4 separate regions of the Homo sapiens genome follow, and regions 1, 2 and 3 are each linked to region 4. The links come from fine-mapping of genetic effects on plasma protein levels. A gene starts in region 4. Each other region holds a variant in brackets. All regions are shown on one strand. Distances are from middle to middle. Region 1 overlaps CD200R1 (CD200 receptor 1). Region 2 overlaps CD200R1 (CD200 receptor 1). Region 3 has its middle 6.6 kb from the start of CD200R1L. Region 4 holds the start of CD200R1 (CD200 receptor 1).

The links. PIP is the posterior inclusion probability: the model's chance that the variant is causal. Protein levels are from antibody-based Olink assays in UK Biobank. Linkage for the fine-mapping came from a reference panel and not from the study's own genotypes, which makes the PIPs less certain.
Region 1: its variant is fine-mapped to the plasma level of the CD200R1 protein (UK Biobank, PIP above 0.99). The variant lies in the coding sequence of CD200R1. If it changes the protein, the assay may bind it differently, which can mimic a change of level.
Region 2: its variant is fine-mapped to the plasma level of the CD200R1 protein (UK Biobank, PIP 0.99).
Region 3: its variant is fine-mapped to the plasma level of the CD200R1 protein (UK Biobank, PIP above 0.99).

Annotation. Positions count from the first base shown.
Region 1 is chr3:112,927,728-112,930,337 of GRCh38, reverse strand. It overlaps CD200R1 (CD200 receptor 1), which reads left to right. Exons shown (of 8, transcript NM_138806.4): 4 at 831-1,148; 5 at 1,274-1,522. Among named protein-coding and RNA genes, the nearest start is that of CD200R1, 46 kb to the left of the region's middle. The variant A/G (reference allele first, on the strand shown) is at 1,402.
Region 2 is chr3:112,962,649-112,965,258 of GRCh38, reverse strand. All of the region lies in intron 1 of CD200R1 (CD200 receptor 1), which reads left to right. Among named protein-coding and RNA genes, the nearest start is that of CD200R1, 11 kb to the left of the region's middle. The variant G/A (reference allele first, on the strand shown) is at 1,461.
Region 3 is chr3:112,852,198-112,854,807 of GRCh38, reverse strand. No RefSeq gene overlaps it. Among named protein-coding and RNA genes, the nearest start is that of CD200R1L, 6.6 kb to the right of the region's middle. The variant G/A (reference allele first, on the strand shown) is at 1,409.
Region 4 is chr3:112,974,090-112,976,699 of GRCh38, reverse strand. CD200R1 (CD200 receptor 1) reads left to right here and starts at 1,597. Exons shown (of 8, transcript NM_138806.4): 1 at 1,597-1,909. The coding sequence starts at 1,843.

The sequences.
Region 1 (2,610 bases), 46 kb after region 4:
AAAACTCATCCAAAGGCTACATTTGATAATGTCATAAATTTGCAATAAAATATTTTTAATAAAAAATGTCTAAAGGGAAATAAATCGTTTTTTAAAAATTATATATCACACTATATTTTCACAAGAAATAAATATTTCTAAGCATCTCTTATCACAGGGCATTATCATTTTTCATTTTTATGGGATGGCTCAACTGGTGGAATAATAGTTTTTTTTTTTTTAAAGATCTGTGGGTTTCACTGACTTTGTGATTCTTTTTAAAAAAAAGAACTTAAAAAAATTTCTAGCTAGTTCAACCCAAATGCCATATTAGTTACTTTAAAAGAAAGCACTATATATTAATACATACCACATTTATGTTTGTCTGAAACAAAAACCTTAGAGATAGACTTTTTTGTGCTCACCAAAGCTGAGGAGGAGACAGCCACATCACTAATTGTTCCATTTTCTTTCCTGTGGCACATACATTGTATGATAAAGGCAATAGTCTCCACCACCTAAAGATTAGATGTAGAACATTGCCTTTGTTGTTTAATTTACAATTCTCTTTGTTTCTAGATATTAAAACTTCTCCATTAATATAAAAAATACTTTATTATATATCATATTTCTAATAATACATAATACAGGAGAAAATTGGTTAATCTCTAGATTGGGTTCAATATATTATTTATATTTTGAGAATTTTAATTTTTTATGAAGGTCTAATATTTTTGGAATAAGATCACCAACAAAGTTATGTTCTAGTGTAACTTCATATGTTGTGGATAAATGTAACACATGAAGTTCTTTATCAAGCTTTTCTTTTATCATTCTCTTTTCATGTCCAGTTAACACTTCATGGCCTGTAAAGATGGCTACAAATGCTGTGCTTTGTTGCCCTCCTATCGCATTAAGAAATTTGATCATAATAACATGGGAAATAATCCTGAGAGGCCAGCCTTCCTGCACAAAAGCCTACAAGAAAGAAACAAATGAGACCAAGGAAACCAACTGTACTGATGAGAGAATAACCTGGGTCTCCAGACCTGATCAGAATTCGGACCTTCAGATTCGTACCGTGGCCATCACTCATGACGGGTATTACAGATGCATAATGGTAACACCTGATGGGAATTTCCATCGTGGATATCACCTCCAAGTGTTAGGTAAGGAGCATCATATATTGAGGTATTTCACATCACCAGATTTGTGACGGAAACAAATGTCTCTCTGAATTCCATATGCTTTATGTGAAAACCGAAGCATTTTTTTCCCTCTTTCCTCTCTGCAGTTACACCTGAAGTGACCCTGTTTCAAAACAGGAATAGAACTGCAGTATGCAAGGCAGTTGCAGGGAAGCCAGCTGCGCATATCTCCTGGATCCCAGAGGGCGATTGTGCCACTAAGCAAGAATACTGG[A/G]GCAATGGCACAGTGACTGTTAAGAGTACATGCCACTGGGAGGTCCACAATGTGTCTACCGTGACCTGCCACGTCTCCCATTTGACTGGCAACAAGAGTCTGTACATAGAGCTACTTCCTGGTCAGTAATTCTTTTAGTTTTATTTTTTATTTTTTTCCATTCTTTTAAAAGAGTTAAGAAAAAAAAAGATGTGCAAATATATTTTGTTCGAGGATGCTCTCCCCACTCTTCATTTTTATCTCTTCCCTGACCAAAATAAAGAGATGAGTTGAGGAGAATAGTACAGACATTTGTTGTAAAAAGCCCTTTTTTAGAATGCAGTTTAATTCTACTATTAATGTTCACTTCTATGCTAGTAGTTAATTAGCATGAGTAGTATACTTTTAAAAATAATACTTATGGCTTATTGAAAGATAAAGTATACTTTGAAGCATGTAATTATGGTTCTATTAGAAGGATACATTTACTCAAAGTTGCTTTTATGAATTTTTAGTTTGTTGTAATTTTGTTTTCTGGACTTTTCATCATTGAATTTCTTAAATGTCTTATAATAACATCTATGATTCATTTAATCACTGTTTAGTTTATTTACTCTCTGCTCTCATCCTACTCTCATTTCTTGTTATTTAAAAACTATTAAATATCAACAAACATATTTAAAGTGCAATTGTTCTGTAAGGCTTCCTGAAAAACATTAGCTCTACCCCTGTCTTTCCAACCCAATTGCCATCTCCATTAAACTCCCCACAGGTAGGTACTTTCAAATTTTCCAGTGTTTCTTCTGGTAATTAGTGCCATTTTTATACAACATGCTCATACTGCTATTTCTTACTGTATCAAATTTAGACATTATGTAATCACAACTTCTTATGGTAGATGAGGATTTCACATTACCTTCTTCCTTTCCTTCAAACTTTAGTTGAGGTAATGCAATTTTTCATTAAATAGCCTATGTTCCCATCAATTTGAATATTTAAGTACTGTTAAGTGCTGAATCAAGAAATACACTCATGCTTTCTCTTTCAAATGACTTTTTTTCCTTGGACTTCATAAGTGCTTTACCTTTTTTGTTTCCTTAAGAATGTATGTACCTATCGTGAACTATCACTAAGCCTATTGACAAAACTAGAGAACCCCTTAGTAATATTTTCTACATGGTCAGATTTATTAGGTAATCTGTTAGTTCTATTTTTTCTCAAAGTCATTCC
Region 2 (2,610 bases), 11 kb after region 4:
ATCTTAAGGTCACTGATGATCTTCTTGTTACCAAATCACAAAGCTTCTTAATTCTTAGGTTAAGACTGTTCTGCATATGATTTAATCTTGATTCTTCCTGTCTTGAAACCTCCTCTTTACTTGGTATAATAGTCCATTTTCACACTGCTGATAAAGACATACCTGAAACTGGGCAATTTACAAAAGAAAGAGGTTTAATGGACTTACAGTTCCACATGGCTGGGAAGGTCTTATAATAATGGTAGAAGGTGAAAGGCACATCTCACATGGCTGCAGACAAGAGAAGAGAGCTTGTGCAGGGAAACTCCCATTTTTAAAACCATCAGATCTCATGAGATTTATTCACTATCACAAGAACAGCATGGGAAAGACCTGCCCCCATGGTTCAAATACCTCCCACAACACGTGGGAATTTAAGATGAGATTTGGATGTGGACACAGCCAAACCATATCATTCTGCCCCTGGACCCTCCCAAATCTCATGTCCTCACATTTCAAGACCAATCATCCCTTCCCAACAGTTCCCCAAAGTCTTGATTCATTTCAGCATTAACTCAAAAGTCCACAGTTTAAAGTCACATCAGAGACAAGGCAAGTCTCTTCTGCCTATGAGCCTGTAAAATCAAAAGCAAGTTAGTTACTTCCTAGATACAATGGGGGTACAGGCATTGTGAAATACAGTCATTCCAAATGGGAGAAATTGGTCAAAACAAAGGGGCTACAGGCCCCATGCAAGTCCAAAATCCAGCAGGGCAGTCAAATCTTAAAGCTCCAAAATGACCTCCTTTGATTCCATGTCTCACATCCAGGTCATGCTGATGCAAGAGGAGGGTCCCCATGGTCTTGGGTAGCTCTGCCCCTGTGGCTTTGCAGGGTACAGCCACCCTCCTGGCTGCTTTCATGAGCTGGCATTGAGTGTCTGTGACCTTTACAGGGGCAGAGTGCAAGTTGTCAATGGATCTACCATTCTGGGGTCTGGAGTATGGTGGCCCTCTTCTCACAGCTCCACTAGGCAGTGCCTCAGTAGGGACTCTGTGTGGGGGCTCCAACCCCACATTTCCATTCCATACTGCCCTAGCAGAGGTTCTCCATGAGAGTCCTGCCCCTGCAGCAAACTTCTGCCTGGACATCCAGGTATTACTGTACATCCTCTGAAATCTAGGCAGAGGTTCCCAAACCCCCATTCTTGACTTCCATGCACTGGCAGGCTCAACACCACATGGAAGCTGCCACAGCTTGAGGCTTGCACCCTCTGAAGCCATGGCCTGAGCTGTATGTTGGCCCCTTTCAGCCATGGCTGGAGCAGCTGGCACACAGGGAACCAAGTCCCTAGGCTGCACACAGCATATGGACTCCTGACCTGGCCCACAAAACCATTTTTTTCTCCTAACCCTCCAGGCCTGTGATGGGAGGGGCTGCTGTGAAGGCCTCTGACATGCCCTGGAGACATTTTCCACCTT[G/A]TCTTGGGGATTAACATTCAGCTCCTTGTTACCTAGGCAAATTTCTGCAGCTGGCTTGAATTTCTCCTCAGAAAGTGGGATTTTTTTTTTCTATGACACTGTCAGGCTGCAAATTTTATCAACTTTTGTGCTCTGCTTCACTTATAAAACTGAATGCCTTTAACAGCACCCAAGTCGCATCTTGAATACTTTGCTGCTTAGAAATTTCTTCTACCAGATACCCTAAATCATCTCTCTCAAGTTCAAAGTTCCACACATCTCTAGGGCAGGAGCAAAATGCTGGCAGTATCTTTGTTAAAACATAACAAGAGTCACCTTTGCTCCAGTTCCCAACAAGATCCTCATCCCCATCTGAGACCACCTAAGCCTGGATTTCATTGTCCGTATCATTATCAGCATTTTGGCCAAAGCCATTCAACAAGTCTCTAGGATGTTCCTAACTTTCCCACATTTTCCTTTCTTCTTCTGAGCCCTCCAAACTGTTCCAACCTCTACCTGCTACCCTCCAAAGTCAGTTCAACATTTTTGGGTATCTTTTCAGCAGTGCCCCACTCTTCTGGTACCAATTTGCTGTATTAGTCTGTTTTCACACTTCTGATAAAGACATACTTGAGACTGGGCAATTTACAAAAGAAAGAGTTTTAATGGACTTAGAGTTCTATGTGACTGGGAAGGCCTCACAATAATGGTGGAAGGTGAAAGGCACATCTTACATGGCAGCAGACAAGAGAAGAGAGCTTGTGCAGGAAACTCCTGTTTTTAAAACCGTCAGATCTTGTGAGACTTAATCACTATCATGAGAACAGCATGGGAAAGACCTGCCCCCATGATTCAAGTGCCTCCTACTAGGTCCCTCCCACAACACATGGGAATTCAAGATGAGATTTGGGTGGGGACACAGCCAAACCATATCACTTGGCTTTGTGGCATTGCATTTATATCCTACTTTTCTTCACTGTTTTTGTAAAGTGCAATGCCTCCAAGAGATCTCTAATTATAAATGTTTTCAAGGCTCTAGTTTTGGCCTTTTCTCTAACATCAGAGACTGCAATTTGGCAGCTCATGGGTTATATCTGGCTTGCAGACACTTTAGCTGATACATGTAATTTTTTTTAAAAAGTTAGCTGCCAATTAATAATAAAATTTGGAC
Region 3 (2,610 bases), 120 kb after region 4:
GAGGTTGTTTGTTTTTTGCTTGTTGATTGAAATACCTTATAGATGCTGGATATTAGACCTTTGTCGAATGCATAGTTTGAAAATATTTTCTTCCATTCTGTGGGTCATCTGTTTACTCTGTTGATAGTTTCTTTTGCTGTGCAGAAGCTCTTAAGTTTAAATAGATCCCATCTGTCAATTTTTGGTTTTGTTGCAATTGCTGTTGGTGTGTTTGTCATGAAATCATTGCCAGTTCCTATGTCCAGAATGGTATTACCTAGGTTGTCTTCCAAGGTTTTTTATGGTTTCGGTTTTTACATTTAAGTCTTTATTCCATCTTGAGTTGATTTTTGTATATGGTGTAAGGAAGAGGTCCACTTTCAATCTTTTGCTTATGGCTAGTCAGTTATCTCAGCACCATTTATTGAGTAGAGTCCTTTCCCCATTGCTTGTTTTTGGCAGCTTTGTCAAAGATCAGATGGTTATAGATGAGCGGTCTTATTTCTGGGTTCTCTATTTTGTTCCATTGGTCTATGTGTCTGTTTTTATACCAGTACCATGCTGCTTTCATTACTGTAGTCTTGTGGTATAGTTTGAAGTCAGGTAGCATGATGTCTACTGTATTGTTCTTTTTTCTTAGGATTGCCTTGTGTATTTGGGTTCTGTTTTGGTTCCATATGAATTTCAAAATAGTTTTTTCTAGTTCAGTGAAGAATGTTATTGGTAATTTTATAGAAAGATCATTTAATCTATAAATTGCTTTGGGCAGTATAGTCATTATAATAATACTGATTATTATCCATGCTCTTATCCATGAGCATGGAATGTTTTTCCATTTGTTTGTGTCATCTCCATTTTCTTTGACTGGTATTTTGGAACTCTCATTGCAGAGATCTTTCACCTCCCTGGGTAGCTGCATTCCTAGGTATTTTATTCTTTTGTGGCAATTGTGAATGGGATCACATTTCTGATATGGCTCTTGGATTGGCTGTTGTTACTATATAGAAATACTAGTAATTTTCATATCCTGAAACTTTGCTGTTTATCAGTTGTTTGTCAGCTTAAGGGTCTTTTGGGCTGAGACTGGGGGGTTTTCTAAATATAGAATAATGTCATCTACAAATAGGGATAGATTAACTTCCTCTCTTCCTATTTAGATGTCTTTTTTTTTTTTTGAGATGGAGTCTCGCTCTGTTGCCCAGCCTGGAGTGCAGTGGCATGATCTCGGCTCACTGCAAGCTCTGCCTCCCGGGTTCACGCCATTCTCCTGCCTCAGCCTCCCAAGTAGCTGGGACTGCAGGCGCCTGCCACCGTGCCCAGCTAATTTTTTTTTTTGTATTTTTAGTAGAGACGGGGTTTCACCATGTTAGCCAGGATGGTCTCGATCTCCTGACCTCGTGATCTGCCCGCCTCGGCCTCCCAAAGTGCC[G/A]GGATTACAGGTGTGAGCCACTGCGCCCAGCCTATTTCTTTCTCTTGCCTGATTGCTTTGGCCAGGACTTCCAGTGTTATGTTGAATAGGAGTGGTAAGAGAGGGCATCCTTATTTTGTGCCGGTTTTCAAGGGAAATGCTACCAGCTTTTGCCCAGTTGGTATGATGTTGGCTGCGGGTTAGTCATAGATGACTCTTATTATTTTGAGTATGTTCCTTCAATACCTAATTTCTTCAGAGTTTTTAACATAAAGCAATGTTAAATTTTATCAAAAGCCTTTTCTGTATCTATTGAGATGATCATGTGGCTTTTGTAATTAGTTCTGCTTATGTAATGAATCGTGTTTATTGTTTACTGTATGTTGAACACACCTTGCATCCCAGGGATAAAGCCTACTTGATCATGGTGGATTAGCTTTTTATTGTGCTGCTGTATTTGGTATGCTAGTATTTTGTTGGAGATTTTTGCATTTATGTTCATCAAGGATATTGGCCTGAAGTTTTCTTTTTCTGTTTTTCCATTCTGTCTGCCAGATTTTGGCATCAGGATGATGCTGGCCTCATAGAATAAGCTAGAGAGGAGTCCCTCCTCCTCAATGTTTTAGAATAATTTCAGTAGGAATGGTACCAGCTCTGTTTTGTTACATGGGGTAGAATTTGGCTTTGAATTCATCCAGTCCAGGGCTTTTCCTGTTTTGTAGGCTACTTATTACTGATTTAATTTCAAAGCTTGTCATTGGTCCGTTTGGGAATTCCTTTTCTTCCTGGTTCAGTCTTGGGTGGGTGTATGTGTCCAGGAATTTATCCATTTCTTCTAGATTTTCTAGTTTGTGTGCGTAGAGGTGTGCATAGTCATCTCTGATGGTTATTTGTATTTCTATGGGGTCAGTGGTAATATTCCTTTTGTCCTTTTTGATTGCAATTTTTTGTGTCTCCAAGGCTATTTTCAGTTCAGCTCTGGTTTTGGTTATTTCTTGTCTTATGCTAGCTTTGGGGTTGGTTTGCTCCTGCTTCTCTAGTTCTTTTAGTTGTAATGCTCATTTTTAAAATTGAGATCTTTCTAACTTTGTGATGTGGGCATTTAGTGCTATAAATTTCCCTCTTAACTCTGCCTTAGCTGTGTCCCAGAGATTCTAGTATGTTGTAGTTTTGTTCTCATTAGTTTCAAAGAACATCCTGATTTCCACTGTAATTTCATTATT
Region 4 (2,610 bases):
TGAGTGCCATCACACCTGGCTAATTTTTTTTTTTTTTTTTAAGTAGAGATGGAGTTTGGAGTTTTGTCATGTTGCCCAGGCTGGTCTCGAACTCCTGAGCTCAGGCAATCTGCCCGCCTCGGCCTCCCAGTGTCCTAAGATTACAGACATGAGCCACTACTCCCGGCCAACTTTCACTTCTATGTAGTGGAAAACCAGAATATTATCTGTATTTTAAATGATGTATTCTCACTAATTTTCCGACACCTGGTGAAACATTAGACAGAAGAGAAGACATTTTTGTTTTGGTCTTCCCATTGTCACAGCTCATACCCTTAAGTGTTCCATGCCCTCAAGGATCTGGTTTCACTGTCTTCATCAAATTAATTAACTGGAAAAAAAAGCTTGAGAAGGGGAAGGGGGGAAATATTTATAATGTTTGGCAAGAAGGAAGATGAAACTGCTAACTGAGAAAAAAAATGCATGCTGTTTAATCTTTTTCCTGTTTGCAATGTTTTCTTCCCCTTCCTGTACAGTTTTGCCTTGGGGCAGAAAATTCTCAGCACATAGAAGATTTTTCCCTCTCTCAGACATAACTTAAAAGCATAGTAACATAGTAACTAGCAACAGTAAGGAAGAGGTTTTTTTGTTGTTGTTGTTGTTTTTTTTTTTTGGTTAGGGGGAGTCTGAATTCCAGATGTGTGGCAACTAAGAGATGGGTGATTATTTGTAATTTGGTTAAAATGATCAGTCTAATTTTCCAAAGGTGAAACTGAATGGCAATAAGTACTGAGTTCTGATAAACAGAATGCCCTCACCCCCAACAAGGTAGATACCTATGTCCGAATTACCGAAACCTGTGAATGTTACCTTGTGTGGCAAAAAGGACTTTGCAGATGTGATTAAATTAAGATCTTGAAATTAGATCATGTTGGATTATTTGGGTGGACCAAAAATAATCACAAGGTCTTTATAAAAGGGAGGCATAAGGGTCACAGTCAGAGAAGATGTGACAGTGGACCAGAGGTCCGAATGATGTAGCTGCAAGCCAAGAAATGCAGGCATTCTCAAATCGCTGGAAAAGGCAGGGAGCAAATTCTGCCCGAGCCTCCAGATGGAGTGCAGCCCTTCCAACACCTTGATTTTAGTCCCCTAAGATCCATTTCAGACTTCTGATCACCAGAACTGTAAGATAATAAATGTTGTGTTGTGTTAAGCCACTGAGTTTGTGGTAATTTCTTACAGTAGCAATAGGAAACTAATACACATATGATGTTTACAGGGTTGTGTGTTGACTCCCATTATAGACAGGAATTTCACACAATAATTTTCAAGAAAACATATTGTATTCCAGACTCAAATACTAAGGCCGTAAAGCTCTTCAACCTGGAGAAAGCCTCTAAAAGTCATCATAATTGGGAAATTTACAAGGATGGGCCAAAGTAGATCAATATTCTGTTTTACTTTTTGGTGCAAGTTTAGACAAATCTGTTTATCTTGGACACGTTCAATGCCTTACTGTAAAGTTTGTCTGTGTACAGCAGAAGTGAGAGGAGAACCAATGAGCTGAGAGATAATTCAATCAATCTGCTTCCTCCGTCTTTGCTTCAGGGCTTCATACAGGAAATCTATTGCTGTGTCAAGTTCCAGAGAAAAGCTTCTGTTCGTCCAAGTTACTAACCAGGCTAAACCACATAGACGTGAAGGAAGGGGCTAGAAGGAAGGGAGTGCCCCACTGTTGATGGGGTAAGAGGATCCTGTACTGAGAAGTTGACCAGAGAGGGTCTCACCATGCGCACAGTTCCTTCTGTACCTGTGTGGAGGAAAAGTACTGAGTGAAGGGCAGAAAAAGAGAAAACAGAAATGCTCTGCCCTTGGAGAACTGCTAACCTAGGGCTACTGTTGATTTTGACTATCTTCTTAGTGGCCGGTAAGTTTGAATTCTCTTTGGGAGAACAGTGAGAAACCTGGTCTCAGCTCTTCCTGAGTTTATTTTTTGTCTTTCTTCTGGGGCAATACAAATCAATTGCAATAATAAATATAGGGGGTTGCTAAATATGGGTTACTCCCATATCTAGTTTACTTTATTATCCTTTTTTCCGGTGTCTTGCTTGTTGTACTTTGTATCCTACTACAATATACAGATCTCTATAATTTGTCTTACTGTCCATTTCCTTATTTCCTCCTGTTTTTTGAACAAGGCAGGATAAATCAAATACATACTAGCAGCAATCAAAGTCAGTTAGGTTCTCTTTATCTTATTCTCTTCCCCAACCCCCTTTTTTGAGACAGGGTCTTGCTCTGTTGCCCAGGCTGGAGTGCAGTGGTGCAATCGTAGCTCACTGCAGCCTGTAACTCCAGGTCTCAAGCAGTCCTCCCACTCAGCCTCCTGAGTGTCTAGGACTACAGATATGCGCCACTATGCTTGGCTAATTTTTAAAATTTTTGGTAGAGATAGAGTCTTGCTATATTGTCCATGCTGGTCTTGAGCTCCTGTCTTCAAGCAATTCTCCCACCTCAGACTCCCAAAGCATTGGGATTACAGGCATGAGCCACTGCACCCAGCCTCTTCTCTCTTAATTTTTTTTTTTAAGATAAGAACGCTAACTCATTTAGGTCCACATTGCCAGT